Regions from separate parts of the Homo sapiens genome. Here all the other regions are linked to region 1. The links come from fine-mapping of genetic effects on gene expression. A gene starts in region 1. Each other region holds a variant in brackets. All regions are shown on one strand. Distances are from middle to middle. Region 1 holds the start of QTGAL (queuosine-tRNA galactosyltransferase). Region 2 has its middle 7.9 kb from the start of METRNL. Region 3 overlaps QTGAL (queuosine-tRNA galactosyltransferase).

What was found. PIP is the estimated chance that this variant, and not a neighbour inherited with it, causes the effect. A credible set is the group of variants that fine-mapping cannot tell apart.
Region 2: its variant is the best candidate, but not a certain one, in a credible set for the expression of QTGAL in whole blood (INTERVAL, PIP 0.60).
Region 3: its variant is the best candidate, but not a certain one, in a credible set for the expression of QTGAL in tibial nerve (GTEx, PIP 0.81).

The regions. Positions count from the first base shown.
Region 1 is chr17:83,049,510-83,059,150 of GRCh38, forward strand. QTGAL (queuosine-tRNA galactosyltransferase) reads right to left here and starts at 2,261. Exons shown (of 13, transcript NM_001009905.3): 1 at 2,228-2,261. The coding sequence starts at 2,242. It overlaps LOC124904094, which reads left to right and starts at 1,678. Exons shown (of 4, transcript XR_007065967.1): 1 at 1,678-1,736.
Region 2 is chr17:83,066,723-83,076,756 of GRCh38, forward strand. No RefSeq gene overlaps it. Among named protein-coding and RNA genes, the nearest start is that of METRNL, 7.9 kb to the right of the region's middle. RefSeq lists an enhancer at 2,918-3,470. The variant G/C (reference allele first, on the strand shown) is at 6,248.
Region 3 is chr17:82,944,133-82,954,166 of GRCh38, forward strand. QTGAL (queuosine-tRNA galactosyltransferase) reads right to left here. Exons shown (of 13, transcript NM_001009905.3): 12 at 2,747-2,851. The coding sequence ends at 2,771. TBCD (tubulin folding cofactor D) reads left to right here. Exons shown (of 39, transcript NM_005993.5): 39 at 1-1,782. Among named protein-coding and RNA genes, the nearest start is that of QTGAL, 100 kb to the right of the region's middle. The variant A/G (reference allele first, on the strand shown) is at 4,414.

The DNA.
Region 1 (9,641 bases):
TCACGCCATTCTCCTGCCTCAGCCTCCCGAGTAGCTGGGATTACAGGTGCTGGCTGGTCATGTTCTAGGTGGAATAAGCATTTCGGCAAACCATGTTAGAAAACCTGCAACAAAGTAACCCCTTTAAGTAACCCCTCAGCCCACAAAAAACAATGTTTTAACAAAGTATCGGGCAGGAGGTGTTCAAAGAACCCAGCTGAGCAAATGGGAGGCCTGACGTCCATCTCTCGATTCCTTTGTCCTACACTTCGTTTCGGGCTAGTGTAGCTAGTGTCCTTTTCTCATTGTCCTTTTCTCATGAAGCCCAAAACAAAAATTTATAAAGTGGGATGGAGTAAAACCAGGAAATTCAATGCCAACAAAACAACTGATTACAGGAGTTAAGTCTTAATTTCATACATTATAATATTAAGTGATACGGAGCGATACTTAAGAGATTAGTCTGTCCTCACCCTTAATTTATATCCAAAAAAGAAAAGTTGAAATTGTGTTGAAAACACAATTTAGTCAAGTTCTTTACAAATGAAACCTCACTCTGTCTCTTCCTGGACTTAGGTTAATAAGAATAAAACGAGTTCTGGCCGGGCGCGGTAGCTCACGCCTGTAATCACAGCAGTTTGGGAGGCCGAGGCGGGCAGATCATCTGATGTCGGGAGTTCAAGACCAGCCTGACCAACATGGAGAAACCCCGTCCCTACTAAAAATACAAAATTACCCTGGTGTGGTGGTGCATGCCTGTAATCCCAGCTACTCGGGAGGCTGAGGCAGGAGAAACGCTTGAACCCGGGAGGCAGAGGTTGCGGTGAGCCGAGCTCGCGCCATTGTACTCCAGCCTGGGCAACGAGTGTGAAACTCCATTTCAAAAAATAAAAATTAAAAAAAAAATAAAACGAGTTCCCTAATTTATTTACAAATTTACCTTAGTTTGGATTTACTTAGAGGAAAAGAAGGAAATAATTTTTCTCAAGATCTACAAAATATAATGTTTCTATCAAAGATAGACCTTGATTCACCTGTTACCAATTTTAGTAAGACTGGAATAAAAAAGAAAAAAGGCTGGAAAAAAAACAAACAAAAAAACAAAAAACAGAAAACATGCTGAGCCTTTGGGCGACTGCTAATCCTACATCCCTGTGGTTGTTCCCTGCATCGGCCTATTGGCTGGGTCTGAACCCTGAGGGCCTTTGCTCCAGCCTCTGCCGGAGCACGGGGAAGGTGTTCGGGGCTTAAGGGCAGGTTTTTAGGGCACGTGTTTGGGGTAAGTGTGCTGGGCACACAGGCAGGTGTGTGGGCACGGAGGAGGTGTGCAGGTAGGTGTGTGGGATGCGCAGGCAGGTGTGCACGGCAGGTGCACGGGCAGGTATGGGGCACGGGCATGTATGCAGGACGCAGAGCAGGTGTGTGAAGCAGGTGTGCAGGCACAAGACGTGTGTGTGGGGCATGGGCAAGTGTGCCGGGAATGTGTGACGGCAGACGTGTGGGGTGCGAGGTTGTGTGGGGGCACACGGACAGGTGTGCAGGCAGGTGTGGGGCACGGGGAGGTGTGCAGACCAGGTGTGTGGGGTGCGGGAGCGAGGCAGGTGCGCGCGGCAGGTGCGCGGGGGCGAGTCAGGAGCGCGGGGCACGTGTGTGGGGTGTGGGGCAGGTGTGCGGGGGCGGGGCAGGTGTGCAGGGCAGGCGTGCAGGGGCAAGGCAGGTGCGTAAGAGCGAGGCAGATGCGCAGGTGCGCGGACCAGGTGTGTGAGGTGCGGGGGCAGGTGCGCGGGGGCGGGGCAGGTGCGCAGGAGCGAGGCGGGAGCGAGGCAGGTGTGCGGGCGCGGGGAAGGAGCGCGGGGCAGGCGGGCGGGGATGAGGCAGGTGCGCCGTTCCTCCACCCCACGACCAGGTGAGGGCGAACGGGGAACTGCCTGAGCTCCGAGCCCGGAAGCTTCAAAATCAGAACGAGGAAGGTCGGTGAGGAGGCCACGCTCGCGGGACGGGGGCAGGAAGCGCAGCCGGAGCTGCAGATCTCGGCCGCGCCCCGCGGGCTCCAATCCCGAGCGTCCCCCGCACGCGCAGCCGCGCTCGCCCGCGGGGCCTAAGGGCTGCTCAGGGCGGAGACCCCGTAGGTGAGCCCGAGAGGCGGTGCGGGGCTGCGAACCCCGGAGCGAGAGAGGACTGGAGGGCGGGGTGAGGGGACGCGAGGACCCAGCCTGCACGGCGGGGCACCCTCCCCGCTGGCACCTACCACGTGGGCCTGCATGGCCTGGCTCTCCTCGGACGCCCCGCCCACGCCGGCTCCGCTCATCCCGCCGCTTCGGCCTACGGCGCCTGCGCGGGCGGCACCAGGAGGCGGGTCTGAGGCCAGGCAATCTCCGATTGGTGCAGAGCGGCGTCCATAGGGGTGGGCCTCCCGGAGGGGCGTGGAAGGGGCGGGGCTGCTCGGCGCGGGGCGGGGCCGGGAGGTCGCCGCCTCAGTCTTCCGCCCTGGGCCACGCCCCGGTCCCGGGTCACCTCTCGGAGCCGCCTCCTTGGCCCGTGGAAGCCTCCTGCTCTCCCCTAGGGCGCGCGTCACAATCTCTGGTCCCCCGTAGACGCCGCCGCGGGGAAGGCGGGGCTGTGCGAGGGCGCCGCGCTGCAAACCCAAGCCAGGCGGCCTGGAGTTGCTGTAAAGCCTCAAGCAAGGCTGATATGTAAAAGGTCGTTGCATTTCACCCGGGCTGTGGGCTGTGCTACTTGACCGGGGAGGACGAGGGGACTGCAGGGCGTCCTTTCAGACAGACGCGGTAGGGAGAGCAGGGCGTGCAGGACACTTGACGGCCCCAGGAGAGGGGTGAGGCCCTGACCCCACCGGGGTGTCATCCAGGAGGAAGGGTGCCCGGGGCGAGGTCCCCCAGGAGAAGTGCCCAGGCCTGAGGCCTTGACCCCACTGAGATGTCCCCCCAGGAGGAGGGGTGCCCGGGGTTAGCTCCCCTAGGAGGAGGGGTACCCGGGAGTGAGGCCCTGACCCCACCGCGAGGTCCCCCAGGAGGAGGGGTGCCCAGGAGTGAGGCCCTGACCCCACCAGGAGGTCCTCCAGGAGGAGGGGTGCCCAGGAGTGAGGCCCTCACCCCACCGTGAGGTCCCCCAGAAGGAGGGGTGCCCAGGAGTGAGACCCTGACCCCACCAGGAGGTCCCCCAGGAGGAGGGGTGCCCGGGAGTGAGGCCCTGACCCCACCGCGAGGTCCCCCAGGAGGAGGGGTGCCCAGGAGTGAGGCCCTGACCCCACCAGGAGGTCCCCCAGGAGGAGGGGTGCCCGGGAGTGAGGCCCTGACCCCACCGCGAGGTCCCCCAGGAGGAGGGGTGCCCAGGAGTGAGACCCTGACCCCACCAGGAGGTCCCCCAGGAGGAGGGGTGCCCGGGAGTGAGGCCCTGACCCCACCGCGAGGTCCCCCAGGAGGAGGGGTGCCCGGGAGTGAGGCCCTGACCCCACCGTGAGGTCCTCCAGGAGGAGGGGTGCCCGGGAGTGAGGCCCTGACCCCACCGTGAGGTCCCCCAGGAGAAGGGGTGCCTGGGGAAAGACATGACCTCAGTAGCTCCGGGTACCCTCCACCTTTGCCCTCATTTCCGCCTCCGCATGCAGCCTTGGGAACTGCAGGGCTGGGAACCCGGAGAAGGCGGCCGGGCTCTGGGGGAGCTCAGAGGTGGCCTTCCCTGCCAGGAACACAGGCCAGGCCCCATCCCTATCTAACCTTATACTTGAGGAGCACAGAGCGGATATCTCCAGATTTGAGTCCTGAACGCGCGGCCGGGAACCCCAGCAGTTCTGAACTTGTCAAGGGAGCAGCCTGCCATGAGGGGTCTCCCAGGCGGCTGTGAGGCCTCTGGAAACTCCCTGCTTGGAGGAGGTTGACTGGGGACAGGGCCGTGGGGGTCAATAAAAAGGACTGCTGCCATTAGCCCTGGGCTGCCTGCACACAGAGATTAAGCCCGCTTGGGATTTGTTCCAGCTGATCTGAAGTAATGAGTAATTCACAATTAATGAGCATGGCTGTAAGCAGCCCTTCCTGGACAAATCCTTGGCTGTCCAAAACTAAGATTAAATGCAAATCATTCTGTCAATTAACCGTTACAACAAAGCCAAACTTCTGTTAAGCATCACTTCATAGATGGTTTTTTTTCCCTTAAATTGCCTCCTTGTTTGCAAAGCCTGTTTTACAAGTGGACTGCTTAAGTCACATGAGTGAAAATGCAGCCTTATTTACCGTTCAGCAAAAGCTATCTGAGAATTTGCTTCCAGGGACTTCATGTTCTCCAGAGGTTGGGGTACTAGGAATCATTTCATTGTAAAGGACTCAGTAAAAAGTAGCCCTGTAGCTGCCAGAATGCGCCGTAGGCTCATGATAAGGTAGGTGGTAAGGGCCAGAGGTCAGGGGTCACAGATGGCTTCTGCCCCTCCACAGCACATGGTGTCCAGAACTGGGCTTGCCTCTCACCTTCCTTCCTGTACATTTCCTGGTGCCAGAAATTTGCTTTTCACTGACTTCCCCCTAATTCAAATTTGATTAGAATCTCCTTTTTGGGAACATTCAAAGTGCCAAGGTGCGTTTCAGAAATGCAGGGTTGCAGAGGTGGGGTCCTGAAATCCAAGGGTGGTGGGGCCTGAGATCACTGCCCTCGCAGTAGGAAGATCCTCGGGGAGAGGTCAGCAGAGGGCCCGGACAGAAGGCACTGACACTGTACCCTGGAGAGAGACAGGAAGGAGGACCTGGGGCCTCAGAGCTGGCCGGGTGGAGATCGTGTGGTCTTCGTTCAGAGGGAAGTGAGGTGCTGATGAAAGATGATTGACGTCACGTGGGCACCAGCAGAGGAAGTGACACAAAACGCCCCACAGCTTTGGGTTCACTGAGTGGGCAGTTGTATTTATTTATTTTATTTTATTTTTGTAGAGATGGGGTCTTGCTGTTGCCCAGACTGGTCTCGAGCTCTTGGCCTCCCAAACTGCTGGGATTACAAGTGAGAGCCATTGCAGATAGCCAGTTTTCTTTATTTTTAATTGTTGTTTGTGCAAAAGGTTTTGGCGAATACTGGCTATATTCAGAGGACTCAGTACCAGTTGCCAGGGGCCTGGAGTAGGTGCTGTGGTCTCAATGTGTGTGTCCCCCCAAACCATATGTTGACACCTAACCCCCAAGGCGATGTGGTTAGGAGATGGAGCTTTAAGGAGGTGACTGGGCCGTGAGGGCTGTCCTCTCATGACGGACGAGTGCCCTTCAACGAGACTTGAAGGAGCCCTTCTGTCCCTTCCTCCACGTGAGGACACATAGAAGGTACCATCTCTGGGGAACAGGCTGTCACCAAACACCAAGTCTGCTGGCGCCTGGATCCTGGACTTCTCAGCCTCTACAACTGTGTGCAATACATTTCTACTGTTTATCAATCACATGGTCAGAGGTATTTTGTTACAGCAGCACAAATGGACCAAGACATCAGGTCTCCAAATCGAAGAACTTCTCAGCAGCCTTCAGTGCTGGGTGGGGAGACAGAGGTTCCCTGCAGGTCCCCACAGACAGTGTTAGACTCAGTGCTGGGTGGGGAGACAGAGGTTCCCTGCAGGTCCGCACGGACGGTGTTAGACTCGGTGCTGGGTGGGGAGACAGAGGTTCCCTGCAGGTCCGCACGGACGGTGTTAGACTCGGTGCTGGGTGGGGAGACAGAGGTTCCCTGCAGGTCCGCACGGACGGTGTTAGACTCGGTGCTGGGTGGGGAGACAGAGGTTCCCTGCAGGTCCCCACGGACAGTGTTAGACTCGGTGCTGGGTGGGGAGGTTCCCAGCAGGTCCGCACGGACGGTGTTAGACTCGGTGCTGGGTGGGGAGGTTCCCTGCAGGTCCGCACGGACGGTGTTAGACTCGGTGCTGGGTGGGTTGACAGAGGTTCCCTGCAGGTCCGCACGGACGGTGTTAGACTGGGTGCTGGGTGGGGAGGTTCCCTGCAGGTCCGCACGGACGGTGTTAAACTCGGTGCTGGGTGGGGAGGTTCCCTGCAGGTCCGCACGGACGGTGTTAGACTCGGTGCTGGGTGGGGAGACAGGTTCCCTGCAGGTCCCCACAGACAGTGTTAGACTCGGTGCTGGGTGGGGAGGTTCCCTGCAGGTCCGCACGGACGGTGTTAGACTCGGTGCTGGGTGGGGAGACAGAGGTTCCCTGCAGGTCCCCACAGACAGTGTTAGACTCGGTGCTGGGTGGGGAGGTTCCCTGCAGGTCCGCACGGACGGTGTTAGACTCGGTGCTGGGTGGGGAGACAGAGGTTCCCTGCAGGTCCGCACGGACGGTGTTAGACTCAGTGCTGGGTGGGGAGACAGAGGTTCCCTGCAGGTCCGCACAGATGGTGTTAGACTCGGTGCTGGGTGGGGAGACAGAGGTTCCCTGCAGGTCCGCACGGACGGTGTTAGACTTGGGGGACACTGGGTCCCCAGTAAGAATGATTCTGATGTGAGTGCAGCTAGTGAGGGCTGAGTTCAAGCTTTAAAGACAAGAGCCCAACAGGTTCCTTCAACAGCCTGATCCCCTAGACCTTCGTGTGTCCAAGTCTCCAGAGGGGATGAACCTCAACAGACCTGGTTCGACCTCCCCTAGGCAGTGGGTGCTGCCTGGAGGGCAGGGTCGCTCGAGACTGTAGGAGACTCTGCACGTGGTGACCATAGCACCCCCATAATAAAGCAGCCCGTGAGGGCAGCCTGGCTGTTCGGCGATGTGTGCACTGAGGTCATCTCTCCTACTCTGTCTCAGCTATTTAAAGGCTGTGACTCACCATGTGGATTTAATGACTTATTAAGGAGTTGCAGCCCATGCTTTTTAAAAAAGTAATCTACAAAAAAATAAATGAAAAAGTCTTCAGGACAGTAGACTTAAGTGCGGATGTGGTCCCTCGAGTTCCATTTTTCAGCCGCCCACATTCCTGGGATTCAGACCTGTTGGGGATTGTAGGATTCTAGTTGCACAGGGAAACCCAGAGTCAATTCAGGAGGATAATTCTGAGCCAGGGGTGGGGGTACCGGCCTGGAGCTCCGGGGGGTACGGGCTGATCCTACGAAAGGAAAGTCAAGCCTGTGAATTGCAGAGCCTGGACAGAGAAGTTGAGGTGACGGCGTTCTGCAGATCCGTGAAATTCTATTACACGTCAGAGGGAAGGGACGGCCTCATGTGGCCCCTTGGAGGGACCAAGCCCTACCCAGCGCCTTGCCCAAGTCAGCACGCAGTCAGTGTTGGCTCCACCCACCTGCACCGTCAGGCCTTCTGGAAAGAGAAGGAGATCCGACTGACGGAGCGTCTCCAAACTTCCAAGCAAATATTACCTCGTTAAAGCCCAGTGCCACATGACTGACCTGGAGCCACAGCCTGCCCTCCTTCCCTGGGCCTACAGGAAGGGGGAGGTTCCTGTCACCAGAACCGTTCCGTCATCAGCCGGGCAGATGCTCGCTGTGGATTCTAGGTGAGCATCAAGTACTAGGGACCATGTTTGTCTTGGATTCCCCCGTCCCGCCTGAGCCCAGAACGCAGAGCCGGAGTCAGGGGCTTGCACATGGAGCGTTTCACGCCCAGGAGGCTGGGGCAGGGGCCAGGAAGGAGCGGGGAGGGGGCCAGGACCAGCGTGCTCTGCTGAGGGTCCACATCGAGGGCTGGACCCTGGACCTCCACAAGCCTGGAGAATTCTCCATCCGAGCAGTGAGGAGCCCCTGCTTGTTGTCAGCTGGAGCTGCGCCTCGGGGCTTCTGCTGTCCTGGCCCTGGGGTGGTGACTGCAGGATCCCACAGGTGTCCCGAGGCCTGAGGCTCTTCTCACTGCAGAGGCCACCCTGCAGGAATTGGAGTTAGGACCCGGAGGGTGGGACAGGCTGACTCAGAGGAGCCAGCTCTCAGGTTGGCAGGAGGAGGAGATGCACAATGAGACAGCAGCCTCACCTCCAGGGGACGGCCCCGCAAGCCGGAGCTGCCCTCCTGCACACTCAGCACTCAAGGTGGATTTGGAGGTGACCTAAGCCCACAGCTCTCCAAGTCTTGGGGAAATCTACAGTGGATGGCAGGTGCCTGCGGACGCCGAGTGGGTGCGGCCCCAGTTATGCTCAATGCAGGGGCACCTGTGTTGTTAGCAGCTGACGTGGACGGGAAAGGCCTGTGCTGAACAACGTTCCGTGTTCAATTAGACACTCTCCTCCTAAACAGGGGCGGAAGACGTCTCATGGGGGTTCCAAGCGTGATTTATGGAACTCACTCCCATGAGATAACATAACATTTTTCACACGTGGGAGAAAGGGCTGGGCTCGACTGGTGCCTGAGTGAATGCTGAGGATAAATGGGAAGCAGGACATTCCAGGGCACCTCTGCGTCTTGCATGAGACCTTGTGAGGGCCCTGTGGTGCCCCTGATGTCACTGTCGAAGGTGGAGCCGCCCCCGCTCTGCCTCGGCCTCCCTCAGATGTCCTCCCCAGCTGGCCCTGCAGCGCACGTGGAAGACAGCTGCCGAGAAGCAGGTGTGATGCCAGCCTGTGGGAGAAGCCACATCTGGACAGTGCGTGAAGCCAGTCCAGGGGCCACACCGGGACCTGCCCTCAGCTCTGCCACGTCCTGGCCAAGTGGCCTTGGCATGCCAGCCCTGGTGTCCACAGAGGCATCCATTCCTCATGGCAAAGTGGAGTCAAGTCGGCTGATGCAGGCGAGACACCTGGCCGGCCTGGGGAGCCGCACCAGCGCTCCCCACATTGCACTGCTGACTGAGGGGTGCTCGGTGCCGCGGCTTCACACGGTCAGTGCACAGACATGAACGCTGGACTGAGAAGCCGCCGCGTGCACCTGGCCCGCCAAGTTGCCAGGGAGGCAAGGGTGGTGTTGACGTGGATCACCGAAGGAGCTGGCAGCCCAGCCGTCCCCGTGACTGGATGGAATCCGCAAGCGTTCCTGGGCATCCACTCTGGGAAGGGCTCAGTGCCAGGGCCTAGGGTAGTTTTCAAATTGCAGGTTGTGGCCAGTATACCAGGGGTCATGGGGTCAGTACACTGGGCTCTGACTGGCAATTCCTAAAGATGAAGTGTGAGTCTGTCCCATATAGTAAGAGCTGCATTGATTTGTAAAGCTTGTGTTGGTTTTGCACGTTCTATGCCAGTGTGTGCTGGACCGTGATAGAAAGCGCATTTCTCGCTGTGGTGCCTGCCGTAGTCTGGAGGGAAAGATGAGTCCGTGGCTCTAATGTGGGGTGGTGGGTGTGGTCTACACAGGGAGAGCGAAGAGCCCACATGGGGCATGAGAGGGGCCGGAGAGGCTGGGGCAGGGGAACCCGGGCCAGGTCCTGAGAACAAATGGGGTTATTCAGCTCCTAAAGGTGCAGGACTCAGCCCAAAGTCCCTGGTGACCCAAAGAGGACCATGTGAGTCTGATGTGGCTGTGGAAGGCGGGGCTCACAGCAGGCTGCCGGGGCACCATTAATGGGGGAGGGTCCTGTCCCCAGCGCATACGTAGACGGCCCTTCAGAACCTGCTCAGTGGTCAGTGCGGCCGTGCAGCTGCACCCCGGCCTGGTCACCTGTGCTGTGCCCAGCAAGGAAGATGCCCCCGCTCAGCCCGTCCATGCACCCTCCAGAGGCTGTCAGCTGCCTGAGACCCACACTGGCTCTTGCAGGCTAGAGGAGA
Region 2 (10,034 bases), 17 kb after region 1:
GAGGGACAGTGCGTGTTCTCACCCGGGGCCACGGCTTCACCCTGGGCACGGCTGCCCGCCCTCTGCACCCTCACCCTGAGTCCTGGAGGGACAGTGCGTGTTCTCACCCGGGGCCACGGCTTCACCCTGGGCACGGCTGCCCGCCCCCTGCACACTCACTGTGCGTCCTGGAGGGACAGTGCGTGTTCTCACCCGGGGCCACAGCTTCACCCTGGGCACGGCTGCCCGCCCTCTGCACCCTCACCCTGAGTCCTGGAGGGACAGTGCGTGTTCTCACCCGGGGCCACGGCTTCACCCTGGGCACGGCTGCCCGCCCTCTGCACCCTCACCCTGAGTCCTGGAGGGACGGTGCATGTTCTTACCTGGGGCCACGCAGGGCCTCTCAGGGAAGGCTGTGGCAAGACAGACACTCTTCTCAAGGCAGGTCTGGGTGCCTGGGGACTACCCCCTAGGGACCCGAGAGACCCGCTGGGTAGGATCCGGCCCCCTGTCTGCCGCGCGGCCTCCGGGAGAGAGCTGGCCTCTCCGCGTCTGTTTTCTGCCTGTGAAGGAGGCGATGGTGAAGATACCAGCTGTGGGTTTCAAGGGGAGGTGACACCTGCGCTCTGGTGGCCATGGTGTGGACACGGACCCATTGTCTGTTTCCTTTGCGGGATTCCACGCTGGGCTCCTGTTGGCAAGAGGAAGGTCCTGAGGAACTGCGGGGGGAGGCTCGGCCTCGCCTGCCCAGGTGGTGTGGGTGCCTGCGCCTGGGGGAGAGCCTGGGGTTCTCTCGGGACCCGCCTCTCCTCCCAAGGCCATTTCCATGCACTGGACACTGCAGGCCCTGAGGCATCAGGTCTCGCTGGCTTTGCTGGCCGTCCGGAGCTCTGGCCTAGGTGCGGAGTCCTGGGGGTCCTGGGGAACCCACCTGAAGCCCCCCCTCGTGGCCCCTGTGGCAACACTGACCGGGCCTGACCTGTCCCCTCGTGTCACACTGACCGGGCCTGACCTGTCCCCTTGTGTCACACTCATCTTACACTGTGCTTTATCTTGTTACCCTGCAGGCATTCACCTCAACCCCTCCCGTCCCCTCTGGGATGAGCCGGGCCACAGATAAAGGCCTCTTAGCGGAGCTACGAAAAGGATCACTTTAGCCCTTCTGGGAAGGAGGGATTTAGGTTAAGTCAGCTCAGCTTAGATTCCAAAAGACTAGGACGGTCAGCCCAGGACCCAGGCATTTGGGTGACACAAGTGCTTTCCGGCCGGGAGAGCCACAGGCTGTGCAGGGAAAACTCAGTTGCTTTTGCTTTCTGAAGTTCAGGGCTTCCAGCTGGACGTTTTTGGAAGTGCGGGAAACACATGAGGTTTCGCTAAAGGAATGAAGCCTGAGCCTCCACGGGGATGAGAATGACCCAAGAACCTCCCGAAATCCCACCTGCAGGAGGCGACAGCGGGGGCGACAGCGGGGGTCCCGGGAGGCGACAGCGGGGGGCGGCAGCGGGGGTCCCGGGAGGCGACAGCGGGGGCGGCAGCGGGGGTCCCGGGAGGCGACAGCGGGGGTGACAACGGGGGTCCCGGGAGGCGACAGCGGCGGTGACAACGGGGGTCCCGGGAGGCGACAGCGGGGGCGGCAACGGGGGTCCCGGGAGGCGACAGCGGCGGTGACAACGGGGGTCCCGGGAGGCGACAGCGGCGGTGACAACGGGGGTCCCGGGAGGCGACAGCGGGGGCGGCAACGGGGGTCCCGGGAGGCGACAGCGGGGGTGACAACGGGGGTCCCGGGAGGCGACAGCGGCGGTGACAACGGGGGTCCCGGGAGGCGACAGCGGGGGCGGCAACGGGGGTCCCGGGAGGCGACAGCGGGGGTGACAACGGGGGTCCCGGGAGGCGACAGCGGCGGTGACAACGGGGGTCCCGGGAGGCGACAGCGGGGGCGACAGCGGGGGTCCCGGGAGGCGACAGCGGGGGCGGCAGCGGGGGTCCCGGGAGGCGACAGCGGGGGGCGACAATGGGGGTCCCGGGAGGCGACAGCGGGGGGCGACAATGGGGGTCCCGGGAGGCGACAGCGGGGGGCGACAACGGGGGTCCCGGGAGGCGACAGCGGGGGCGACAATGGGGGTCCCGGGAGGCGACAGCGGGGGGCGGCAGCGGGGGTCCCGGGAGGCGACAGCGGGGGCGACAATGGGGGTGTCCTCCCAGGGTGGGATCCGTGGGGGTTGCAGGTTGGAACTCGGGTGCTCCCCCCATGGCACGCGGGCCCAGTAAGCCCAGCCGTGGGGGCTGCCGTGGTGGAAATCGCATCTGCATGTGAGGACAGCAGGACCCAGCACCTTCCCGCGGTGACCCCAAGAGGCAGGGCTGGCGGCCGCCCTGCCAGAGTCCCCCTCCGGACCTAGAGGAGGCATCTCCCTAATTTCACCTTTTTCAGTAGAAAAACATCCCCGAGGTTCACCTAAAACCCCAATTTTTCAGGAAATGGTTGAGGCTGCTTATCATTTGTGGAAATCACGTGTGCACAAGTAGAGAGAATGCAGCGGGGTGGGGACAAAATGAAACCCAGAGAACTTGGCAGGTCCGCACACAGGCCTGACCCCTGTGCTCCTAGGGGTGCCCGGGATGGGTGCCGTCGTCAGCCCCATGACGAGGGTGACTGGGTCAGGTGTCAACCCCCACGGGCAGGGCTCTGTGCCCACCACCCCATGCTGTCGGAGCAGCCCGAAGGTGGCCAGCGCTGAACATGGGGTCCCACCCCATCCTCTCTGAGAGCCGGGCTGGGCCGGGTGGGGGCTGGCAGGGTCTGGCTGTTCTCAAACAGGTCCTTTCTCAGAAGGTGCTAGAAACTGTGTCCCTCACCAAAAGCTAACATGGGTGCCAGAGCTGGGACAAGGGCCAGTCCTTCCCCAACCTGCTGGGTCTCCCACACGCTTCCACATGCTCCCACACACTTCCACATGCTCCCACACGCTCCCACATGCGCACACACGCTCCCACACGCTCATACATGCTCCCACATGCACACACATGCTCCCACATGCTCATACATGCTCCCACATGCTTCCACATGCTCCCACACGCTCATACACGCTCACATATGCCTGTCATGCCCCTTTGTCCAGCGGCTTCTCATCCCTCTTCCAAGCCAGGGAAGGAGGGTCAGGGGCTGTAGTTGCCCCTGTAGTTGTCAGGCTGTGGGCACAGAACCTGCCAGGAGGGGTCTACCCTGAAGTGGACGGGGCCCATGTGGTGGGAGCCGCAGGATGTGAGAGGCAGACACCCAGTGCCGAGGTGAGCCACGTGGGATGCCTCCCGTGAGGACGCTCCAGCCCTGATCCTTCCGGGTCCCCACTGCTGCATGACAGCCTTTGCTGGTGCACAAGCTCACAGCCCCCGTGTGTGCAGGGCTGGGAGGGAGCGTGCTGGGCCCAAAGGTGGCCGGGACAGTCTGCCTCAGGGCTGTGGTCAGGGGCACGGGCTGGGACTGCCCCACTGCGGAGGCTTCTGGCGGACGGGGCGCGGGGAGTGGACGGGACAGGGACGGCTCCCCCCAGCCCAGCCGGTCAGCGCGGGCCTGACCTCCACTTTGAGCGGCGGCTTGGCCTCTGGCCTCTCAGGGTCCCTGCTGAGCTGTGCTGATGACTCCTCATTCGCAGGGGGGGAGGCTGTGGGGCCTTGGGGGCCTGAGACACCTAGAAAGGGTCAGGAGGGGACCACGGGGTGGGCAGGGCTGGGAGGTGGCCCAGCAAGCAGCCTGGGGACATTCAGATGCTGGTCACTCAGGGAGCTGGCAGCCGCTCTGCCTGCCCCTCACTGGACTTGAAAGCAGTGAGAACAGACGATGCCCAAAGACGCCCACAAAAGCGCTTCCTGTTGACATCAACACACTCTTAGGCCTTTCTCCTCCGCGCCCTCCAAGGCCGGCATCGCCCAGGCGACCACTGGACCACGAAAAATAAAGTCATGCCCCCCAGCCCCCACTCTGCCACTCATTATTTTCCTGTTGCCTTGTAGTGGACTCAGCTATGGTTTGTTTTTTGAAATTGAGTTTGAAATCCAGATCCTGCCCCACAGGCACTGGCGCCAGAGTCGCGGCTGCTGACCAGAGCTCTGCAGAGTTTTTGCTGGAAATTAGAGTCAAAATGGAACCACTGTGGGCCAAATCCCATGCAGGGCTCTACACACATGCACACATGCTCAGAGGCATGCACACATACACATGAGCACACACACACAATGCACACTCGAGCGCACACACGTGCACACAGGCATGCACACATACACATGAGCACGCACACGCTCACAATGCACACTCGAGCACACGCACACGTGCACACAGGCATGCACACATACACATGAGCGCACACACACAATGCACACTCGAGCACGCATGCACATACACACGTGCACACACGACGCCCAGGGAGTCTCAGGGAGCCTGTACCAGCCCTTGGACAGGGCCAGGAAGTCAAAGGGGAAATCCCTCTTTTCTTTTTTCTCTCAGAAACCCCGAACAACAGACTTTGTCAATAAGCATATTCACTTTTGTACTTAAAAAGTATGTTTTTAAACATTTTAATTAGCTCTCTAGACTCAAATAATCATCTTCTTCACCTTGTTTTCTCTGTGACACGCAAAAGGCTGGCAGGCAGGAGGCTTCTCAGAGTCAGGAGGGCTGGGGGGGAAGGTGCTGTCCACCAACATGTTCTGGACAGGACGCAGACACCAGGCGCCCCACGGCCCTTCATGCTCCGGAGGGTAGAACAGAGCCAGAGGGTGGTGAGGAAGGGGCAGATCCTGGTGGCTGCAGCCACTGCTGTGAGGGGACGGGGACAGGGCTGCTGAGGTCGAGGCAGGGAGTGGGGAGGCCGGAATGGGAGGCCCATGCTCCAAAGTACATAGGAAGCTGGAGCTTCCCTCCCACTGAGCTGGGCCATGAACCTGCCCACGACTCTGTGGGGTTGGCACCATGAAGTCGCTCTCAGATGGGGAGCTGGAGGGTTGATCGCCACCAAGTCACGCAGTTTAGCAGTGGGCACTCCTCGAGCCAACCTGCACCACCTCACTAAGCCCAGCATGGGCTCCCAGTGCCCCTCGGCCCACCTCCCTATCAGCCACGCCCTGGGCCTGGCCCCCTGAGAGGCCCCATGAGGCTGCAGTTGTTTTCTGGGTAAACTGTGTCCCCCCCCATCATTCATAACAATCTCTCTCTCTGTCTCCTTCCCTCTCTTCTTCCCTCCATCTTTCCTCCCTCCCTTCCTCCTTCCTTTTTTCTTTTTTTTCCTTTTTAAATAATTTGTTTTCTCATCATAATAGCAATACCTAGTCATTGTAGAAAAATTGGGGACGATTAAAATTCCACCGTGGAGTCGAGGGGAGACTTCCCCTGGCTCCTGTCACTGTTGCCACACTGCATATAAAGATCTGTGGTTTTGTTTCTTCAGTTCACGTGACCTCATCGCTTTACTCTCTCACTGGAGTCCCTTGTGAGCCTGGTGACAGCAGCCTCATGACCCCAAGCTCTTCCACGTGGGGTCAGGCTGCCCCCAGCCTCCTGCCCTGACTCCTGCTGGGTTGGGTCTCCTTGCACCCCCACACAGTGCACAGTGCCAGCTGCTCCTTTTCCTCACCCTTGCTTGAACAGTTGTGCACGCATGTAGGTCACCTCTTCCAGGCAGCCCTACAGGAGTGCACCCCACCAACACTGACAACCCCCCAGACAGTGCTTAAAGACTGAAACTGCCAGCTAGGATTTGGGGAGGGGTCCCTGCCTCTGTGGGTCCTGTCTGGCTCTGGCCCAGGCTGACAAGGAGGAGCATCTATGCGGGGAGCTGGTGCGGTGCGGGGCATGGTGGGGTGTGGGGGCTGGAGGGTGTGGGGCGGGGGCGGAGGGGGCTCAGTCATCTTTCATGAGCCTGAACTGAGGCCCAGGACGCACAGTCCACCATCCTGGGTCTGGACAGCGGGTCCCTCTGGGCCGTCTCACTTCCGCAAGCTTCAGCGGAGGCACAGCTCTGGCATTGGGGCTGCAGGGACCTCCTGGCACCACTGGGAGTAGAGTGGAGCCCCGGCACAGGCCTGGCCACCTCTCCAGGAGAAGGCACATGGGTCCTCAGGTCCCTGTTGGGACAGCTGGCGCCAAGGCTGGGCCCGCACGTTGCAGCAGGCAGGGTTGGGGTAGGGTGCTCAGCACCTGCCGTGTGGACGGGAGGGACCCCTCCACTCCCGAGGAGAAAGCCCACCAGCTGGCCTCGCTCCTGCCTGCCTGGAG[G/C]GGCTTCTGGAGGGAGTGTTTCCTCCGCCGAGTCCAGGCAGGCATGGCTGGAGGAAGAGCGTGAAGCCAGCATCCCTGGGTGACCCTGTGCACTCCAGCTTGGCTGGATTTGGGGAGGCACACCCAGGCCCTGCCCCACCCCCGCCTTCACTTGCTCGGGCCCCACCCCGCTGGGCCCCTATCTACTCGACACTGTGGGGGTCCAGTTCTCTCTCCAAGATCGGCCAAGTCCACGTGACCTGGCCCCCGGACGCTCCCTGCACGCCCAGCCCCACCGACACCCTTCCCCAAACCCTGGAGCCTGGGGACGCAGTGGGGTGTCTTGGCACACAGGTGACTCGGGAGACAGATCCCCTGACCCTGCCTGCCAGTGTGCCTGCCCACTGTCCGCTGAGCTGGGTGTCGCCTGCTTCTCCTCGTTCTGGGTGGGACCGTCTGTCCAAATGGCTGTCAAGGCCTTCTTCACTATCTCAGCGTGGGCAGAAAGGGACGGACATGTGAGACAGCTGCCCTGTGCCTCCAGCGCCCCCGCATCCCACGCACGCTCCACAGCCAGAGCTCTCAGCCCCTCCAGCTGGGGGCAGCTCTGGGCTACCCGGCCTCTTTTCAGGGGCAGGACAGCCGGGCTAATTACCTGCATGGGAGGGCCCCACTGGACAGGCTCCTGGTGAGGGTGTCTACCGCCACCCCCGCCTGCCTGGGCTGAGTCATCCAGGCGCAGCGTCGATGTGGGGAGGGCCTGTCCCTGGGGCTGTCCGTGGAGACTCGCCCTGTGGACTGGAGGAGGAGGCAGAACCCCGCCCGGCGGGGCAGGTCCTGGTGGTGACTGCGCCGACCACGGTCCCGCCCTTCCCCACGCGCTGGGCAGCTGCCCAGCCCGGTCCAGGTTAGGTGCCCCAGCATCTGGACGTCCACCCTCCCCGGGACACCCAGCCCAGTGGGGTATGGGAGGAGAGAGCTCTGTCTGCCCTCAGCTTCCTGCAGTGTGGCTACTCCAGCCCATCTGACCCTGGGCGGTCCCCGGTTCCCGGCTTAACAGATGTTGACAAGGCCTTGCCTCCTTCGGGGTGGTGCCAGGGGCAGAGGGGCACAGCAAGAACAGGGCACAGCCCCTCGCACACCCCCACGTGCCTCCGCTGTCGGCAGGCCCCACTGGGGTCTGGGAGATGCCTTCCTGTAGCATGAAACCAAAGGCCACAGAAGCAGAGAAAAAAAGCTCTTCGTTTCGATTATAAACTTGCAAGAAAAAAGGAGCCCAAACTGTTCAGTGAGACACGCCGACCGATCTGAGCCCACGAGGAGCCCCAGGCAGCAGAGCCCCCTCTTTCTGTTTATTCTAGAGGGTGGCCAAGGTGGCCCTGGGAGAGGTGCCTTCCAGAATTCAGATGCCAGTGGGGCGGGCTGCCAGGAGGGCCACGGAGCGGGGCTCTGGTCTCTGATGCCAACCAGTGAACCCTGGGAGGGACCACCCTGTGCCCTGCCCAGCCTGTCAGAGGGGGCCCAGCCCGGTGATGAGCAGTCAAGTGTGGGGCCCACGGGGAACAAGGCGGCGTGCATTTACTCTATGGAGGGGCACCGTCTCCACACGGCAAGCTGGGTGTGCCGACGGCGCTGGATGGCACCATACGTTGTCCCCGTTGAGGGGTGACTCCTGCTCCCATGATTAGGGCCAAAGGGTCACAACCTCTGCAGCTCCCACGTGGCTCAGGGGAAATGCCAAAACAGAGGAACAGCCCTCGGCCGCAGCCGGGGGATGCGTGGGTGCCCTGCACACTGGCCTTCAACGTTTGTGAGTTTCAGGCCTTCGGTAGTTGGCATATGGGACACTCCCTCTCCCCGCAGGCCGTGGGGATACCGGCTCCTTCCGAGGCGTTTCTGCCGTGAGCGTCCTCCAGAACGAGTGGGCTGAGGCCCTCGGCTGACGTCCTGGGTGACCGCAGACCTGCTGTGTGTGGCCGGCCGGCCGGACCTTAGCACGTCATCACTGGGCTCACGGTCCTGCCCCTGAGCACATCTGACCGGCCGTGGTCAGGGTCCACGCAGACGTCCACCTCTGTGTACAAATCCACCGTGTACTGTAGATGGCCCCTCCTGACACCACCCCGCGGAGGCCGAGGACCCTCCTTCCCTGTGGGGTCTGAGTGCCCGAGATGGCAGAGTCACTACAGCTCACCAGCCCTGGGGCCATGGTCGGTTCATGGCCGGGCGGAGGGTGAGATGCTGCCATGAACAGCTGCTACAAACAACTGCTAGGACGGTGTGGGGCCAGCGTGCCACACAGAACTGTCTCTCACTGCCGAGCTGGCGGCTGGTGGCCTCTCTCCACCTGGCCAACCTGGGGGCAAGCACCACCCAAGGTCACATAGCCGGCCAGCATCGGCCTGGACTTGTATCTGACTCAAGGAAACTCCCTACTCCCACTTTTCTCTGACGCACAGAGAGCAGCACATGGCAGCAAATTAGGTTAAGGAGGGGGTTAGGGAAGAATGACACACTGAAGGTCATCAGGTGGAGGCTGGCTGGCATCCGTGGCTGTTTCGTGTAGTAATTACACGTTGCTCATTGAAGTTGAGTTACAAGCACAGGCTCTCCATGTATCATTCAACCACAATTACGATAATTACGAGAAGGTTGGCGAAAATGGCCTGGGAGGGAAACGGGTGGCAAATGACTTGGGAGGTGGTGGTTGGGCGGGGCCGTGGGATGAACTGTGCTCACGTGAACGACAGACTGCGACGTTCTTCAGTATTTTTCAAATGCTGAAAGAGAAAATTTCATGGACGCGCTTGGGGAAACCGTGTGATGTTTTTCTGGAGGAATCCAGCTACTCTGGGAGGAGCTGTTTCTTTAGTGAGTGGATTCAGGTGACTGGTCATCTTGGGCAGCACATTGGCCGTCAACACACATTTGAAAACCTCAAGACTGGGCCAAAAATAAAAGCAGTAAAGTCCACCGGGTTGTGCCAGTGGCTCAGAGAACTCGCAGCTGTGGGGAGCACGGCGGGAGGGGTTCCCCCCACCCAGCCCCATGAGGGCCCCAAGGCCTGATGACAGCCCGGTGGTGCCTTGAACAGGTGAGAATCAGCCCCCACCTGGGGACGTGGCGTTGAATCCTGACATCGTAAACCCTACGACGCCCTGGGAATCAAGAACAGATCCACTTTGCAGGTAACTGAGGCTCAGAAACAGACTCCAACCCCACCATGTCTGTGACCCAGAGCTGGGGGCTGACGTCCGAGCCAGGTCCGTCCACCACCCCACAGGGCCTGTAGGCACCCGGCATAGGAAAGGCCGAGAAAGGGGTCCAGTCCCACAGCCCTCCACCCCAGCAAATTCCCAGGTGCTGGGTCCCTGCAATGCACGCGATAAAAACTCCCGGGTCAAATACACAGAGGTGACCCTGCCGAGGTCACTCGATCCTAACAGTGGGTCGTGGTCCTCGGACATGGGAGGCCACGTCCTGCTTTCTGAGGCCTCAGACCCTGGTGAGGCACAGAAGGACTGTCCAGGGTGCACCCAGAATTTTTTTCACGGACGTCTGCCCAGGAGGCTTCTGAGAGCTGTTTCTCGAGGGAATGGATAGATGAGGAAAGAGAGAGGGTTGATGTAGACCTACGGTTGGGCCACAGGCCCCCCTGGCCCAGGTCCCTTAGCTGCCATCTCCCAGGATGCAGAAGCATCACTGCAGGGCCCGCCGGTAGAGGGAATGGGCAGGCGTGATCCTGGTGGGTTCTGGAGCTCTCCGATTCCACGGCTCAGCCTCAACGTTCCGACTCAGGTAGGAAGTA
Region 3 (10,034 bases), 110 kb before region 1:
GGCATTTTAAGACATGGAGGCAGGTCGATTACCCACCCAGACCCATCAGTGACACTATGTGGCAAAGCAGTTCTTCTTTTAATGTCGGTCTAACTTAGCAACCCGAGGAAAGTGGATCACTCCACTGGCCACTGCCTCTTTCCCACTGGATCCCATCCATCACTGGGGCACTTGTGCTCACCAGACACCTGGTGGCCTGGAAAGCCCTCTTTCAGCAGCCGTTTCTGGAGCCCACCAGGGTCCAGGTGATAGAGTTTGGCAAGGAACCCCTTGCTCACATGATAGCTGGGGCAGACAATAGCAAATGAACAAGCAAGCACCATCAAGGCAGGCAACACTGAGTGCTATGAACAAAGATAAAGTGGGCAATGGAATGGCATGTTGGGTGTTGACTCCGAGAAGGTGTTCAGAAAACCTCTCTGAAGGGGCAGCATTTGGGCAGAGGTCCAGACTGTGTCCAATGGCAGAAAAGAGAATGCTTGTGGTCCCAGAAGTGGAGCAAGCTTTGTGAGTTTAGAGAGCAGCAAGAAGCCAGTATCCCTGGGACCGGGGAGCTGATGTGGGATTTGTGTACCCACAAACACGTTCTAGGTGCTAACCAGAAACCCTCCATGTGAGAGCAGAGACCTTGGAGATCCTGAGGGTTTCTGCTGAGCCCTGGAATCTAGTCACGCTATTTTGATAGCAGAATGGATGAGAGAATTTAAGGCCCAGGGCCAGATCTAATGGACCACTATATAAAGCTGGGACCCTAAATAAGTCTTTTTCAAAGGAACAGCAGCAAGACTCTTATCTCAATCTATCTCCCCTGAAGTGGCCTGAATTAATACTACCTGTATGATCCCCAAAACTCCTAAAGTGGAAAATTTGATTGACTTGGCCCTGACCAGTGGTATTCCCAGACAAGGGCAGAAGATGCAAATACAAAACCTCTCTGGTAGAATGTAGGCTATAATATGAGTACATTTTTGAAAAGGGCTAGAAATGATCAAGAAGAGATTAGAAAAAAACAGAGCCCCTAGAAATGTAAGAAGTGAAATGAAAAGCTCAATGGATAGCTTAGACACAGCTGAAGAGAGAATTAGAAAACTGGAAGATCTGAAAACATTATCCAGAGAACTGGAAGATATGACAGCAACATCAAGAGACATTGAAGAATGTCTAACCTTTGGGTAATTGGGGTCTCAGAATGAAATGAAATGATGCAGATATTCCATACTGACATGCAACAGTCCCCAGATACAGAAGCCTAACAGTCTCACATTTAGACCTGCCACAGTGAAACTGCAGAACTGTAAGAAGGACAGAGTGATATAAACGACTACCAATTTCCCAGCAGCAGCACTGGAGTTGAGCAGTGAGTAGACCAAGGTCTTCATTATGCTGAGAGAAAATAGCTGTCAAGTTGCTTGAATTGTGCCCACAGCATAACATTAAAGAAGAGAACAAAATTAAGTCATTTAGATAAAAATATGCCATTCTTATCTGTTTGGTTTTTTAATCTTGGCTTAATATTTGGGGTTGAGTCATTTGTTTTGAGAGCTGTCCTGTTTATTGCAGGGTGTTCAGCAACATCCCAGATGGAAGCAGCATCCCCCTACCCAGCTGTGACAAAAAGAAAAAAAAATGTCTCCAGACACTGCCAAATATCTTCTGGGGGTGCCCCTGGTTGAGAACCACTGCTTTAGTGGATAAACTTTAGGCAGGAGGGAAATGATCGCAGTTGGATAGTTGGAGGAATGTGGAGCAAGGGAAGCAATAAACTGTGACCATAAAAACATAGAAAGATGGCTTATATGTGGATTTTTTTTTAAAGCACGTAGAATTGCTTAAAATGGACAACAGCAGCATATAAATCAGTGGCAGAGTTGGTGGCTGAATTTAGAGCATCTTAAGTCTATGTTCTCCTGGAACAGAGTGCAGATAATTCAGTTATCAGCTTGGCTAGGTGCATGTTGAAGTATTTAGTCACACACAAACAGTTAATGTATGGGGAAGATAACTTCTATACTAGTAGGAGAGAAATGGAACAAGAATAAAAAATACACTATCAAAATATGCAAGAATGGCAAGAGGAAAAGGCAGAACAAGCTGCAAAACACACACACAATTAGAAATAAATATTTTGGGACACAATAAATGTGAATGGATTAAAACCTCTGTTAATGACAAAGTTCTCCAGTTAAAGGAAGGCAAATAGTGTTATTAGGAATAGATTACTATATGATGATTAAAGGCTCAGTTCAACAGGAAGATGATTGATAGAACTTTCCTACATTTGTAACACAGTCTTAGAAGATACTAAAGCAAACATTCAAGAAGAAATTGATCACCTACTACCATAGTGTATTTTATTGAATTGGTACATTTCAATAAAGTGTCATAAGGCACGGTTGAAGGAGAAAAACTTGACCCAATGGACAGTTACAGAACCCAAGTGTGTGTGTGTGTGTACACAGAAATTTTAAAAATGTTTTTAAAAACATCTCTTTAAAAGAAATAATGAAAATTATAAAATATATAATGAAAGATAAAAGTTAATCAAAACAGATAGAGTTCACCTAAAGTGGTGCTTAAGCGATTCTGAAGTCGTGAATTATACATTACAGAAGAAAGGCTGGAAATTAATGAGCTGAACATAAGCAGAGGACTAACTGTAAAGAAAATTAGAATAAGAGCAGAATGAAAAGGAAATGAAACATAATAAAGAAACAAACCCAGATGGTTCTTCGGTGAAAAGACCCACCTGGGAGCAGCTGCCATGGGTCCGTCAGCTGAAGTGAAGGAAGTCCTGGCCCTCCTGCAAGTGCAGTGACCTCAGGTTGTCCTCAAAGGCGCCCCCTGTGAGGTCCTGTCAGGAGCAGCAGATTCAGCTCAGTCCGGTCTCCTGGCTCTAGGAGGCCACTGTGGAGCCTCCTCCAGGGCCAGGGGTTGGGGGTGGCCTGTGTCCACCTGTCAAGTGTTCTGCTCCTCTGCTAATAGCGGAGAGGCTGGAAGGAGACAAAGGCCAGAGAGGGCAGCAGCCGGCACTGCTTGTACCACAGGCCCTGTTGGTCACCAGAGGGGAGGCCCCCCCTGCCTTCTGGCCTTGCCTCTCTACATAAGGTGGCTGACTCTCCCTGGGGGCACTCGGAATGGAATGAGACTAACAGGCAATGCCTCTGCTGTTTGACCAGGGCAGACCCACCTTCCCTCCACACACCCACCCCTCTGCACAGGCCAGGAGTGGGAGGAGGCCCCTCAGACAGAAACTGCATCTCAGAACCATCAACAGCTGCCCCTGTCTGATCTCCTCTGGCCTCTGTCATCCCCACCCCTGCAATGGAGTGAGGGCTGTGACCCCGGGTCCCTGGATGCTTAATCTTGTCCTGTGTGCTGGCCTTGGCCAGGTCACCTACTCTCCTGTATGAGGCCACAGCAGGTGTCCAGAAATGCCTTTCAGACGTGCCCTGCACCCCAGCACCTCCTGAACAAGTTCCTGAAGACAGCCCGGCAGAGTGGTGGACACAAGTCTCTGGCCTCTGGCAGGACAGAGGAGGGACTATGCATTCCTGTCACAGTCCTTGGTCCTTGGGCCCAGCAGGAGGAATCGGAGCTTGGCTGCGCCCCTTACCCCCACCACATCAGAATCCATTACACCACCTACCACTGCTGTCACTCAAATGATGCTGTCACTCAAAGCCATCCTTCCTGGAAAACATTTCCACACACTCTGCCGCTATCTGTCCTTCCTCCCTTGTCTCTCTGCTCTAGAGTTTGCAAAGGAAACACACCTGAGTTCAGGGACCAGGCCAGCCCAGTGCGTGTTGACACCGTCTTAAACAAGACTCTGTTAAAACTAGATGCTTCTGTAAAGCAACATGTTCCATTAGGAGAATGAAAAGGCAAACCACAAAATGGAGGAAGACATTTGCAAAACATTAAACCAACAAAGTCGAGCAGCCAGAGGTGTAGGGGACTCCTACAGGTCAGGAGAGACGCAGCGTGCAGTAGGCCGGTGGGGAACCCTGATGAGAAACACCGCCAGAGAGGAAGGAACTCCAGTGTCCAGCGGGCACGGGGGGTTGTTGGTCAGACTCACACCTGAAACCACCATGAGAACACACTCCCCAAACGGCTGGCGACCAAGTGCCCAGCCCAGTGTGAGGGAGCCGAGCAGCTGGGCCCTCTGGCTCTGGGCATGTTCCTGGGCATCATCCAGAGAAGCTGAGGATGCAGCCACACCCACGACCTGCCTTCCACTCCCAGGATTAGACCCGAGGCAGGGATGCTCACGCAGGAGGACACAGCGTCCTTGCAAGGGCAAACCGGGAACCACTGCCCACAGGCCTGGGTCCTGGCGTGGCCTCTGGGTGGGGTGGCGTTTGCACACGGGACGTGGAGAAAGTCCACACCATGCACAGCGATACGCAC[A/G]CACCCCAAACACGTGGAGTGAAAACCAGATGCGAGAACACAGACACTGGATTCTGCTCACATGAACTACAAAAATAGGATAAATTAGACTATGGTTTAGGGATGTGTTCACGCACACGCCATGAGGGTTGGCCCTGCCAGGTGCCAAATGCACGTTCACAACCAACATAGACGGCATTTCGTTCCTGGAAAAGCAGTGATGTAAACGATGTTGGGACAATTATCCAAATAGAAAAATTGGCATCTGTAATCAAAAGAAATTCCAGTTGTATCAAAGATGTAATTAAAAACTAGAAATCCCAGAAGCAAAATGGGACAATGTTGTTTTTTAAATTTCACAACCAGGAGTGATTGTCTTAGAATGAATCAGACTCCATAAATGAAAGTCACTTAATTTGATTATATCACAATGGCAAAAATACAAAAATATCAAATGGCAGGAAAATTTGCAGCATGTCGGAGAGTTTTCCTTATGAAAAATACTGACCAATAGAAAAATGGGCTAATGAAAATAATAATTTACTGAAGGGGAAATAAAGCAGTTTATAAATATGTGAGAAGATGCTTTCCCTCCCTTTAAGGGCACGAGGCAGGTGCTCCATCGCTGGTGGGTTGGGTTGGCACAGCAGCTGCGGGTGGTGAACAGCCAGACTGGGATTGAATGTGTGTGCTCTTTGACCCAGAAATTTTTAGAATTTATTCCACACAGAGCCACTTGAGCGAAATTATGTATATATACAAATACTGCAGCAGCATTTTAAACAGCAGATGATTAAAAATGGCCAAAAGGTACATCAGTAAGTAACTGTATCACAAATGCATGAAACATCCATATAATCGAAGAGCGGGTGTTTTAGTGACAAACGTGAACCTTGGGTTTCTCTTTACTCTTCCAGCTAACGGTGGAGGAAGGCACAACAACAGTGCCACCGAGGTGCCCTGAGACCCGCAAGCTGCTCCCGCCAAACGGAATTGCAGGGGAGCCTGATGCGGCCTCGGTCTGACCACCTCTCAAAAGGATGGAGCAGAACACGCAAAACCACAGGGAACCGGTCGGCAGAGTGCAGGATACACAAGCCCATTCTTCAGCTGAACTAAGAAAAGAGCGTCGGCGTCAGGGAGACAGAAAGGTCATGTCGTAAAGGTCACACGGACGCTGCCGGGTTCCAGCAAGCAAACTTAAAACATGAAGCAATTTATAAGGCAATTAGGAAGATTTGAACATCGATGGGATATTTGGAATTCTGTGGTGGGATGGTGGTTTTATGGTCCTTTTAACAGTTTTTATCTCCTTGAGATAGGGAAATAATAATGGATGAAATTAGGCTAGAATGAGTGCCACAACACCAGCGTGGGGATTTGGAGGTGTGGAGGACACATAAGATGGACACGCTTGCTCCAGGGATGGGTACATAGGGCTGGTTTCCTGTCACTTTGCTAATATGGCTCAAATAAGCTGGAAATTTCCCTGAATAGAAAAGTCACAGCAACAGTAGAGCCCGGGGGCTCCAGCGGCTTCACACGGAATAACCTCCAATCTACACACGTGAAAAGAGCAAGAGATGGAACAAGCATGTGCTGTGAGGCCACACTGCCAGCTGCCCCTGGAAGAACAAGCAAGAGACAGGTGACCGTGGGGGCTCTGGGCCCTCCAAGGACACAGCGTGTGCAGGACAAGGAGGAACCTCTTTTCCCATGCTCAGCCGGCTCCCTGGGAAGGGTTTTCACCAAGTGCCTTGGGGTTCATATGAGTGCCCCAAGATAGTAGTGACACCACAGGTCACCATAACACATACGATAACAGTTTGACATATTGCGAGAATTACCACAAGGAGACGTGGAGTGGGCATGCTGCTGGAAGAGCGGCACTGACGGGGTTGGAGAGGGGGTCCCTGAGAAGTAGATCCTGAAGAGGCTGTTTCTGAAAAACTAAACCAGATTCGTGTAGAATTTGCATTTTATAACTGCTTCTCGGAGCCTCCCGTTTACTCACCTAAATGTCCCCGGTAACTTGGACAACGGTTATTCAAAGGTTTTCATTACTTTGCTCAGATCCATCAGAGCAATCACTATCTTTGGCGGCTACGGCCTTAGAAAACGTCTTTCTCCAATAAGACTGGAAAGTTGGAATGACTCCTGGACCCACGGTCTGCAGAACGGATGCTGTGTCAGCACAAAAACACGAACCCCTCGTACATCAGCCTCAGAGCTCCTGGGTGACCAGGTGCACCGTCAATGAGCAGTCGTATTTTGAAAGGAATCTCCTTTTCTGAGCACTGGGCCTAACGGTGGGCTTACACTATTCCATCAACCGTGCTGTGCACAGATGTGCTGCCACCTGGGCCTTGCCGTTCCATTTCTAGAGCCACAGGCAGAGCAGATTTAGCCTCATTCCTAAGAATCCTAGGATTCTCAGAATGGCGACCACTGCCTTCAACTTAACCCATTTATGGCTGAGGTTGCAATTTTTCGAATTTTTGCAATCAGATCTTGGCAGTGACCTTAAGCAGAATATAAACTTGCACATGCTTAGCGTTCCAATAATGGAACACTAGGCATAGATGGGTTTTAAAGTCACGGCAAAGAGTCAGACTGTCTTTTGAAGCTCTGAAGCCAGGCATTGACTTCTCCCTACCTATGAAAGGCCTGCATGGTGTCTTCTTCCAGTTCAAGGTTGCTTCCTCTACACTGAAGATCTGTGGTTGAGTGCGGCCACCTCCATTGTGACCGTAGCATGATCTTCTGGAGAGCCTGCTGCCTCACCTCACACTCATATTACGGAGACGGCTTCTTTCCTTAAGCCTTGTGGGCCAACCTCTGCTAGCTTCAAACTTATGTTCACAGCTTCCTCACATCATTCAGCCTTCACAGAATTGAAGAGAGTTGGGACCTCGCTCTGTATTAGGCTTTGGCTTAAGGGAATGTTGTGGCTGGTTTGATCTGTCAGACCACTAACACTTTCTCCCTATCCGCACTATCATTTGTGTGTTCACTGGAGGACCACTTTTAATTTCCTTCAATAACTTTTCCTTTGCATTCACAACTTGGCTAACCGTTAGGCTGAAAGCTGGGCCTCTCCTGCCAGTCGTGGCTTTCGACATGCCTTCCTCACTAAGCTTAAACATTTCTAGCTTTTGATTTAAAGCGAGAGACGTGCGACTCTTCCTTTCACTTGAACACTTAGAGTCCACTGTGGGGTTATTAGTTAACCTAATTTCAATGTTGTGCCTCAGGGAATAGGGAGGCCTGAGGAGGGGTGGGGTGGGGGGGAGCGGGGAGGCGACAGCTGCTGTCAGAACATTCGCATTTTATCAATCAAGTTCACTGATTCATATGGGCGCCCCGAGATAGTAGTGACACCACAGGTCACCGTAACACATACAGTAACAGTTTGACATATTGCGAGAATTAACACGTGGAGATGGGGAGACGTGGAGACGTGGAGTGGGCGTGCTGCTGGAAGAGGGGCACTGATGGGGTTGCTCTCGTGGGGCTGCCACACGCCTGTAATTTATAAAATGCACAATGAAGTGCAATAAAATGAGGTGCGCCAGTAGTTGCCAGAAAGCTGTGCCCAAGAGGCTCTGCTCACGTTGTTCTGCCTGGACTTGACTTGGATTAGTTGTGTGACAGCTCATCACAGGCCGGGCAGTGTAGACCAACACACGCTGGCCTCACGGCTTCTGCGGGGCAGGAACCGTGACCCGCCCTGGTGTGGCGTGCTTCTAGCTGTCACAGGTGCCCATGTCTGTGTGTCCCCCACAACCCCCCAACAGTACCGCTTGGGGCCTGGCTCACTCTATCAACCACTCACCCGTGGTTATTTACCAAGAAAATGCAAAGCAAAAAAAGCAGGGGTTGCAATCCTAGTCTCTGATAAAACAGACTTTAAACCAATGAAGATTAAAAAAGACAAAAAAGGGCATTACCTAATGGTAAAGGGATCAATGCAACAAGAAGAGCTAACTATCCTAAATATACACACACCTAATACAGGAGCACCCAGATTCATAAAACAAGTTCTTAGAGACCTACAGAGAGACTTAGGCAACCACACAATAATAATGGGAGACTTTAACACCCCACTGTCAATATTTGAGACAGAAAATTAACAAGGATATTCAGGACTTGAACGCAGCTCTGGACCAAGCGGACCTAATAGACATCTACAGAACTCTCCACCCTAAATCAACAGAATATACATTCTTCTCAGCACCACACAGCACTTACTCTAAAATTAACCACATAATTGGAAGTGAAACACTCCTCAGCAAATGCAAAAGAACAGAAATCCTAACAGTCTTTCAGAACACAGTGCAATCGAATTAGAACTCAGGATTAAGAAACCCAAAATCGCAGAACTACATGGAAACTGAACAACCTGCTCCTGAATGACTACTGGGTAAATAACAAAATTAAGGCAGAAATAACGAAGTTCTTTGAAACCAATGAGAACAGAGAGACAACGTACCAGAATCCCTGGGACACAGCTAAAGCAGTGTTAAGAGGGAAATTTATAGTGCTAAATGCCCACATCAGAAAGCAGGAAAGATCTAAAATCGACACCCTGACATCACAATTAAAAGAACTAGAGAAGCAAGAGCAAACAAATTCAAAAGCTAGCAAAAGACAAGCAAGATCAGAGCAGAACTGAAGGAGATAGAGACACAAAAATCCCTTCAAAAAAATCAATGACTGGTTTTTTGAAAAGATTAACAAAATAGACCACTAGCCAGGCAAAGAAAAGAAGAATCAAGTAGACACAATAAAAAAAGATAAAGGGGCTGTCACCACTGATCCCACAGAGATACAAGCTACCATCAGAGAATACTATAAACACCTCTATGCAAATAAACTAGAAAATCTAGACGAAATGGATAAATTCCTGGACACATACACCCTCCCAAGACTAAACCAGGAAGAAGTCGAATCCCTGAAAAGACCAATAACAAGTTCTGAAATTGAGGCAGTAATTAATACCCTACCAACCAAGAAAAGCTCAGGACCAGATGGATTCACAGCCGAATTCTACCAGAGGTACAAAGAGGAGCTGGTACCATTCATTCTGAAACTTCCAAACAATAGAAAAAAAGGGACTACTAACTCATGAGGCCAGCATCATCCTGATTCCAAAACCTGGCAGAGACACAACAAAAAAAATTTCAGGCCAATACCCCTGATGAACACTGATGTGAAAATCATCAATAAAATACTGGCAAACTGAATCCAGCAGCACATCAAAAAGCTTATCCACCATGATCAAGTCAGCTTCATCCCTGGGATGCAAGGCTGGTTCAATATACGCAAATCAATAAACATAATCCATCACATAAACAGAACCAAAGACGAAGACCACATGATTATCTCAACAGATGCAGAAAAGGCCTTCAATAAAATTCAACACCCTTAGTGCTAAAAACTCCCAATACACTAGGTATTGATGGAACGTATCTCAAAATAATAGCTATTTATGACAAACCCATAGCCAGTATCATACTGAATGGGCAAAAGCTAGAAGCATTCCCTTTGAAAACTGGCACAAGACAAGGATGGCCTCTCACCACTCCTATTCAACATAGTATTGGAAGTTCTGGCCAGGGCAATCAGGCAAGAGAAAGAAA